Linked DNA regions of Homo sapiens: region 2 is reported to be linked to region 1. The links are microRNA targets in miRTarBase. Many come from high-throughput screens and were not tested one by one. Region 1 holds a microRNA gene; the other region holds the end of a gene's coding sequence. Distances are from middle to middle.
What was found. Region 1 holds the annotated microRNA hsa-miR-4666a-3p (CAUACAAUCUGACAUGUAUUU, at 2,280-2,300, shown strand). A microRNA usually pairs through its seed, bases 2 to 8, with sites in the 3' UTR of a target mRNA and lowers its output. Matches are read on the target gene's strand: a 7mer-m8 pairs with bases 2 to 8, a 7mer-A1 pairs with bases 2 to 7 and ends in A, and an 8mer does both.

Region 1 (4,402 bases):
TTACGTTTTCATGACTTGGCTTTTCTTCTTTAGAAAAAGAAGATTTCCAGTAATTGCTTCCTCAAACCGTTGTGAAAATTCGAAGTACTGAGCGTTTGTGTCACCATTTCCAGCAGGGAATAAAAATTCAATAAAGTTAAATGAGAAATAATTTTTTTTTTTTTTGAGACGGAGTCTTGCTCTGTCGCCCAGGCTGGAGTGCAATGGCGCGATCTCTGCTCACTGCAACATCGGCCTCCCGGGTTCAAGCGATTCTCCTGCCTCAGCCTCCCGAGTAGCTGGGACTACAGGCGTGCGCCACCCACGCCCAGCTAATTTTTTTAATTTTTAGTAGAGACGGGGTTTCACCATGTTGGCCAGGATGGTCTCGATCTCTTGACCTCGTGATCCACCCTCCTCGGCCTCCCAAAGTGCTGGGATTACAGGCGTGAGCCACTTCTCCTGGCCGAGAAATAATTTTTAAATAAAATTCAATGAAAAATATTTTTCCCCCAAGTCATTTCTCCAAAGGGAACCCGTCGCGTGCCTGGGATGGGGAAAGAAAGGTCACCGTGAACATCCTCGACCAAAACGGCTTTGTCCCCTATTCCCCACCTTTTTTTTCCTGCGTGATTCCTCTACAAGAATCTTTGAGAACCTCGCATGTTTTAAAGCTATCTAAAATATTTTTATTTTCAATTAAAATAGTTGCAAAGATACAAATACCAACGTGGAACTTTTTAAAAATCAAAATTCTCACATCAGTCTCAAGGTGCCTTTTGGAATATCAATATGATAGTATAATCAATTCATAAAATACATGACCAAATTTTTCTTTGTCAATGCGATGTTTCAGATGATTTTTTTCCTCCTGAATGCCTATTTCCATTCTCCATTTGCCTTACAATTTCACCCTACCATAATATATCTATTGTATGTTTAATAGTGTTTTGTCTATTGTTCTCTGCAAAAAAGTCTACATTGAAATTTAAGCATACCTCTGGGTAGTCTCTCACTGTTAAGAAAAATCATCTCGACAGTACACAATTGTTCAAAACATAAATAATTTGATGTTATCAAACAGATAAACTTTTAGTGAAACTGACTCTTAATGAGCTGGATGGTGCACCCACTCTCTTCTCTCCTCTCCTTTCCACCTCAATGACTGCACACATGCAGTGTTCATATTGTTACAGTGTTAGCACAGCATGGGATCATTTCCATATGGTTACAATGCTAGCAGTGCACGGGGTCATTTCCATTCTGTTTTGTTTTGATATATGCTCCAAAAAAAATTTACAAAAAATACACAGGAATGACAATTTTGTCATAGGCACTTTATTCAATTCTTTGCATCCCTAGTTATAATCCAAATATTAAACAGTGATCCATCATCAAAAGTAAGTGGGACTTGTCAACACCCTTAGTACTGTCAAGAAATATAGGATTTGTATGAAAAGCTGTTGAATCCAGTCCTCTCCACTATGAAACAGGTGCCCAATGACTGGAACATCCAAGCCCTCGGCCTCCTACCAGCATGGATTGGAAGTCAATACCTTAAACATTTGCAGCTGTGAAACTACTCTCACAGACCCATATAGTTCTCCACCTTAATGAACTTAAAACATAGGTTTAATAAAGTGAAACCAGTCTCCAGTAGAGAGAGTGAATGATTGTGTTAGCACAAGGCAACAACACTGGTTAGTGCCAGAGATCAAATCAAGGCACAAGATGAACATTTCATGACATTTTCCAAGTGTAATTCTCTAAGAAGGCATTTTGTGATGGATAATGTCAAACGTCAGTCAATTCATGTCTCAGTCCTTCTGATTCCCCTGGCACAAACTTGAAGTAGAAACAGGCTGTCTTTTCCTGCTACATTAGCACCCCCAGGCCCAGAATGAATGGGATTTGTCCGTCTCTCCTAGGACAGGGATCTGTTAAGGGAGAGGCAAAGAAGGTAAAACAGGATCCTTGCTACTAAGATTTTATAATGGAGAAAATTCAGAGCAATCGTGTCCAGAACCCATTTCTCTAATTATAGTGTTACAACAGAGAAAGACAAATGTTAATGATAAATGAAGGCAGTGCACATCAAATATGTGAGAATCCACAGAGACTAAGGGAATTAGGACTCACTCAACAAAATGGAAGCATTTTCTGGGTTGGAGAGACATGCCAAGATTCTTAAACTAAGCCAAATTTTTAAACTAAGCTTCATCTCACCTATCTGAGATGGGTGAGTGACAATCACTTAAATACATGTCAGATTGTATGCCTACAAAATCCCTCCAGACTGGCATACAATCTGACATGTATTTAAGAGATTGCCCCTCACCCATCTCAGATGGAAATTTCAAGTCAGATTTGCTAATTATTATGCAGTAAATAAAATAATTTGGAAGGAATCATCTCCAATTAAACCAACTTTGATTAAAAAACAAAAAATAACAAATGTTGGTGAGAACGCAGGGAAAGGGGATGCTTGTACACTGCTGGTAAGAATGTAAATCAGTACAGCCACTATAGAGACAAATATGGGCATTCTTTAAAAAACTAAAAACAGACTTACCATATGATCCAGCAACCCCATTGCTGGGTATATATCCAAAAGAAAGGAAATCAGTATATCAAAGAGATGTCTGCGGTCTCATGTTCATTGCAGCACTATTTATAATAGCCAAGATAGAAAGTCAACCTTAGTGCCCATCAGTAGATATATGGATAAAGAATATGTGGTACATTTACACATTCGAATACTATTTGGCCATTAAAAAAAATGAAATCCCGTCATCAGCAACATGGATGGAACTGGAGGACATTATGTTAAGTAAAACAAATCAGGCACAGAAAGACAAATACTGCATGATCTCACTCATACGTGGGAGCTAAGAACATGCATCTCATGGAGGTAGAAAGTTGATTGCTGGTTACCAGAAGCTGGGAAGAGTGGTGGGGAAAGGAGGAGATGAAGTTGATTAATGGGTACAAAAATATGCTTAGAAGAAATGGTAACATCTAGTATTGGTTAGAAAAGTAGGGTGACTGTAGTTAACAATAATTAGTTGTATTGCTGGAGGAGAGGAATTGGAATGATCTCGACCTAAAGAGGGTGTGAATATGATGACGGATGTCCCAGTTGCCCTGGTTTGATTGTTAAGCCTATGCGTATATCAAAATATTTGTACCCCCCAAATATGTACAACTATTACGTACTACTAATAAAAAAGCATATTGCTCTGAAAAAGTGCTCTAAAAAATAAAGCCTATTTACAAAAAGAATTTGGAGGAAAGAAAACTCCCTTTAAGAAGAAACTAACCCAAGAAAATGGATTTACTTTATGAGGCCAGAGAGGTTAAATGTTGATAAATGCGTGGCTGTCATTGTGTTGGGAGTGTGCAGTGGGAACTGAGCCTGGGTAGAGTGCATCTTCTACCAGTGGGAACTGAGCCTGGAAACCGAATTCTAATTCCAGGCAACGTTTTTGCTTAGAGGGTGGGTAGCTCTCAGGTATTCGTGGTTGGGGTGTCACCGGTATGGGGTATTTTTAGGGGGAGGACAGCCTGGGCCCCAGTCAGGCCTGCATGCCTTAGTTTTTAATGTGTCATCCAGAGATCATACTTATTTTTCCTATGATTTGCTGGAGTTTTTTTTAAAAAGCACTATATTTGCATTATTCAAAATAATCTTTCACTGTGTAATATGCGTACACACACACACACACACATTTTGGGGGTAAAATACGAGAATCCCTTAATTGGGGAAATTTTAGCTGAGTGATAAGGAGATCTGTGAGCCTGCTGTTTTGATGTTTCAAGCAGGAAGGCGTGGCATAAAGAGCTGCTTAGGCGCAACGCTGCTGAAATGGTTTTGGCTAGAAGCTCACAGTGTCTAGTTGTGGCTAAGGAGGGAGGAAAGGGGCGGGAGAAGAACGGACCCAAGCGCCTCCGCCCAGACGGCGCGATAACCCCCTCACCTCCAACCCCGGACCTCAGTGAGCACGTCCTCCAGTCTCAGCCGCCAGGAGGCACTGGGGGCGGGGACGTGGCACAAGATCTTCCCGGAGGTGACCCACGCTCCTCGCGCGCAGGGCGTAAGCCACACACAGATCTTTGGATGGGATCCATGGCGCAATCGCCTGTACTGCCCCCTCTCTGACTTTGCCTGTGGCCAACACAAGACGAACGCAGCCTTTCTAAGGGAAATATGCCGTTACAAACAAGAAGCCTAATTTTGTCTCTAAGACTTGCGCCCCCACGGCTCAGTCTACTTTCCCTCATTACTCCAATTGAATCACAGGTCACAACCAGACCAGGTGGCACGCTCCTTTTGGAGCTTGGAGGTGGCTCTGAAAAGAGCCTTTGGGTTCGGGGCGCCGGGACGCACCTCACTTGGAGCTGGTGTACTTGGTGACAGCCTTAG
Region 2 (4,402 bases), 3.9 Mb from region 1:
CAGCAGGAATCAGGATCAGAAAAGTCCCCTCACTAAAGAAAGTCACCCCTTCTCCCCTCAAAAAGTACATAAGTAAAAATAAGAATCAAAGATTCTCGTAGCCCAGCTTAGGAGGAATGAATGTATCGATCAGTCTCCATGACTCAGTTTATTTCTGCTCTGACCAGGAAAAACAAGACAAGGCCGTTCTCCAAGCAGAAGTGCAGCACCTGAGACAGGACAACATGAGACTGCAGGAGGAGTCCCAGACCGCGACAGCTCAGCTGCGGAAATTCACAGAATGGTTTTTCACCACCATCGACAAAAAATCTTAGCCAATCCGCACCTCATCAAGGGACCACTGGGAAATGCCCCTTGTCCCTTTGAAGTCACAAACATGTGGTTTTTCTGTGTGCTTTCAACCAATCGTAGATGTTTTTGCTGTTCCATTCTGTGTAGCACCATTCACCACAGCAGGATAGGGAGCCTCGACTCTTTCTCGGTAACCACGGCAGAGAGCAGCGCCGATGTGAAGATGAATGAATGTAACTCCTGGTGTGAAGATGAATGTAAACCCTGGCGACAGTTGAGACCTTTTTCTTTTAGACTCTGCTAAAACAGTGCTCTGGCTTGGGCTTACCTCAAGAGGGAAGATAGTTGAGTTTTATTTCCTGTATATCAGGTGACCTGGTAGAGATGTAAAGCAATTTACCATAGTTTGGGCTTTAGTATTGTAAAATAAACATGAGAACAAATAATCAGACATATACTTTAATGTTAAAGGTGCTCTATTTTTTTGGATGTACAGTAGTTTTATTTCCACAGCCACATTACCATAGCAATAAGAAAGGAGGCATAGTACATAGTTGGAAAAGCTTTGTGGGGGGATTAAAAAAAAAAAAAAGCACTGTTGTGTTTAACACTAGTTCAGATGCAGTTACCTTAGAGACTTATTTATTTGCAGGAACAAATGGTGCCTGAATATTAACAGTGTTCTGATTAAAAACAAAAAAAAGATACATATGCCTTGTAAATGGCTCACCGAGTGGTCAGTAGTCACTTCAACTCTTAGTTCACTTTTGTATAGTTGCTCTGCTGGAAAGAAATGAGAGTGAATCTGCTTACTCACTAGAACTTCCCTGTGTGCTGTGAGCCAGCGGAACCACTTGTACAATGCCAGATTTGTTTATCTTTGTACAGAAGCTTTGATGAAGTGTCTTGTATTTAACACCCTTATTTAAGCTTATTTAACCTTAAATTGTTAATTTTATAAAATTTGGTTTGGCCTGCACTACGATGAGGGATGGAGGTAGCTGCAGGCTCAGAAGAGACTGAGCTTGCACAGATCAGACCGAGAAGCAGGGTGAGAGATTCTAACGACTGGATGCTGCTAGTAACACATTGTTTGTATTGCTTTACCATTTTTAACTGTTAGATTTGAGATGAACATACATTTTGCTTTTTTAATAAATGTTTAAAAGAAGTCCACATAAGAAATGGTGTTGTCAGGTGACTAGATTTTTTGTGATCTAACATGTCAACAGTCTGACTGTATGTGAATTTATTTCAGGTCATTTAGAACCTTGATTTGTATTAAATACTGTTCAGCTCCTTTCTCATAGAATCCCAGATCGATTTCAGGAAGGAGTACCTAGCAGTTTTTAATAGCTGCTGTGTGGCGGACACTATTCTCTGAACTTTTCATCCATCTCATTTAACCCCAATGGTATCTATCCTTCATAGGTAGGAGGTGGGGTTCCCATTTACAACCACATGAACTGTGGGTCAAGTGAAGTAATTTACGCAAGACTGCCTTTAAAAAAATAAAATAAAATAACACTTTGGTGTTGCCAGCACTTTGAGAGGCCAAGGCGGGTGGATCACCTGAGGTTAGGAGTTCAAGACCAGCCTGACCAACATGGAGAAACCCTGTCTCTACTAAAAGTACAAAATTAGCCGGGCATGGTGGCACATGCCTGTAATCCCAGCTACTCGGGAGGCTGAGGCAGGAGAATCCCTTGAACCCGAGAAGCAGAGGTTGCGATGAGCCAAGATAGCGCCATTGCACTCCAGCCTGGGCAGCAAGAGCGAAACTCCATCTCAAAAAACAAACAAAAACAGTAAGAGTTTGAAAAATTATCAGGAAGAGGTAAACTGTAAATTTGAATCCAATGTAAGAAGACACAAAACATAGATCCAGGTGTGAAGGGAAACACTGTAAGGTCCATTCCTCTCAACCTTTGAAGAACAGAAAGCATATCAAGAATTCAGAGGAAGCAAACTGACTCTTAGAATTGGCCCCAAAAGGAATTTTCCATATGGGCTTCACATGAGAGGCATATTGAACAATTAACATTCTCACAGTGGATGTAGCAGTAGGCTTCCTAAAGCTGTTTCATGCAGCTGCCCTCTATGAAATGCACAGGTGCACATCCAAAATTTGCAGCCAGGGACTGGAGATTTTCAGGGAATAAGGACCTTATGGGCCACATAGATACTGTCCTTCCTCCCTCCTTCCCTTTTTTTTCTTTCCCATCAGTGTGAACCAGGCAGCATGCTAGGAGCTGAAAATCCAACAGTGATCAACCGGTCAGGGCCCCTGTGTGCACAGGCATACAATCTAATATGGGGAGACAGACATAAGATCACTTCAAAACATGAAAGACAGAAATAAAAGTACCTGCAACAGGCTACCTTAAGTAATTATTATAAACACTGATACTGTTTGAATAGCTCCTGGGTGCCAGGTCCTGTTGAGCTTTGTGTTACCTACCTAGCAGCCATGTGAGGTAGGTGCCATCATCACTCCCCTTTTTAAAGATGAGGAATCAGGACCTAGATAGGGTGGTCCATGGGTAGACGAGGGCACATGAGGTTCAAAGTCCCTAAGGTTAGTGTATTCAAGAAGTCTAGCAGAAGCCAGGACGTAACGGAGGGTAGAGTGGAGGGAGATGTGCTTGAAGAGATCAGCAAAAGCCACACCATGAAGGAACTGGAGGCCATGCTAGACTTTGGATTTTGTTCCAAGTCAAAAAGAAGCCATTGAAGCAGGAAAGATGCCTGATGAGAGCTCTATTTTAAATGGATTATTCTGACTTCTAAAGCAGAATGGACCATGTAGGTCTTCAAACTTTCTGTGTGGGGCTTTTTCTGCAAACGAACGATTTGAGGCCTTGGGAGTCACTGACTGCCTCTGTTGCATATTTTCAAATTTCTATTTAATACCCTTTAAAGATGGTAAGAGTCATTCTTAGCTTGCAAGACCACACAAAAACAGGCCACTCACGAGTATAATTTACCAATGCCAGGCATAAGGCAAAGTACACGAGGAAGACCAGTCTAGGTAAGAGATGGTGTTGGCACGGCCTGTGGTAAGGCAGTGAAAGTGGAGAGAAGTAGGTAGGCTACACGTGAGAATGTATTTGGAGATAGAGCCCACAGAACTGGGTTGGAGACGAGTTGGAAGGGTTGGATCCAGGGATACGCCCTAGACTTCAAAGGAATCCATGAACTGCATGTTCATCAGACGGTTTTCCAGAAATATCTCTTGCCTTTAGTAAAGGCTTAACAACAAACAGTTATGCTCCTGGCAAGGGCCTGGAATACAGCTCTCCTGCGTATTTGATCAAGGGTGTATGCATTTGCTTTAGAGCAACTAATCAGGTGGAAAGGTGGACATCATTTAGAGAAAATAAAGGAATCTGACCAAAACCTAGCTGAATGGAAAGCCATTCCATCTTCCGAAGGCATGACGACAAAACCAGAAGACATTTCTTGAAAACACAGTTCTCAGTCTATACTAGCAAAGGAATGAATAGTCTCTCTCAAGTCCATCTCCAAAGGGCCATGTCAAAAAACAGGGCCAAAATGATTTGGGTCTGTTAAGCTCTTTCAAACATGTTTCCAGTCAACAACCAACCAACTACGTGCTCCCATAGTACATGTAGTTTTGAACAACTTGGTGTCCTGGTGAACACTGTTACAAAATGTACCCCTTAAAAACTAAACATATTGACTTGCTATGACTTACTGGATACAAACCAAATATTTTGTGGAATATATCTGCTAAAAAAATTATTTTAGAATAAGCAGGTTTTTCTAACCATATGGAGTGAACTATTATGTATTAAGGCCATTTTAGTATGTGACAAAGTTATTTAGGCTTTTATCCTGCTATTCTCTATAGCTAGGAGAAGGCTTATGATTAGAAACCTAAGTTACAGTTGAGGGGACTGATAGTACAGTTTTGCCTTTGCTGCTGACAATTATCTTTTGAGTCTGTTCTGGGAGTCCACTAAACTGCAGAATTTGATCACCTATTATTTTTAGCCTTCAAAGTCATGAAGCCATAAAACATAGCTTCTTATTGGCACATCCAAAAATAAAAAAGATAACTATAAAAACATTAATAATAAAGACCTGT

Region 2: the mRNA of SIPA1L2 is a reported target of hsa-miR-4666a-3p. Seed matches in the 3' UTR shown: 7mer-A1 at 1,059-1,065.

What each region holds. Positions count from the first base shown.
Region 1 is chr1:228,459,846-228,464,247 of GRCh38, forward strand. MIR4666A (microRNA 4666a) reads left to right here and starts at 2,229; the gene lies at 2,229-2,307. It also overlaps the pseudogene H2BC27P.
Region 2 is chr1:232,395,039-232,399,440 of GRCh38, reverse strand. SIPA1L2 (signal induced proliferation associated 1 like 2) reads left to right here. Exons shown (of 23, transcript NM_020808.5): 23 at 168-1,476. The coding sequence ends at 314. Among named protein-coding and RNA genes, the nearest start is that of SIPA1L2, 230 kb to the left of the region's middle.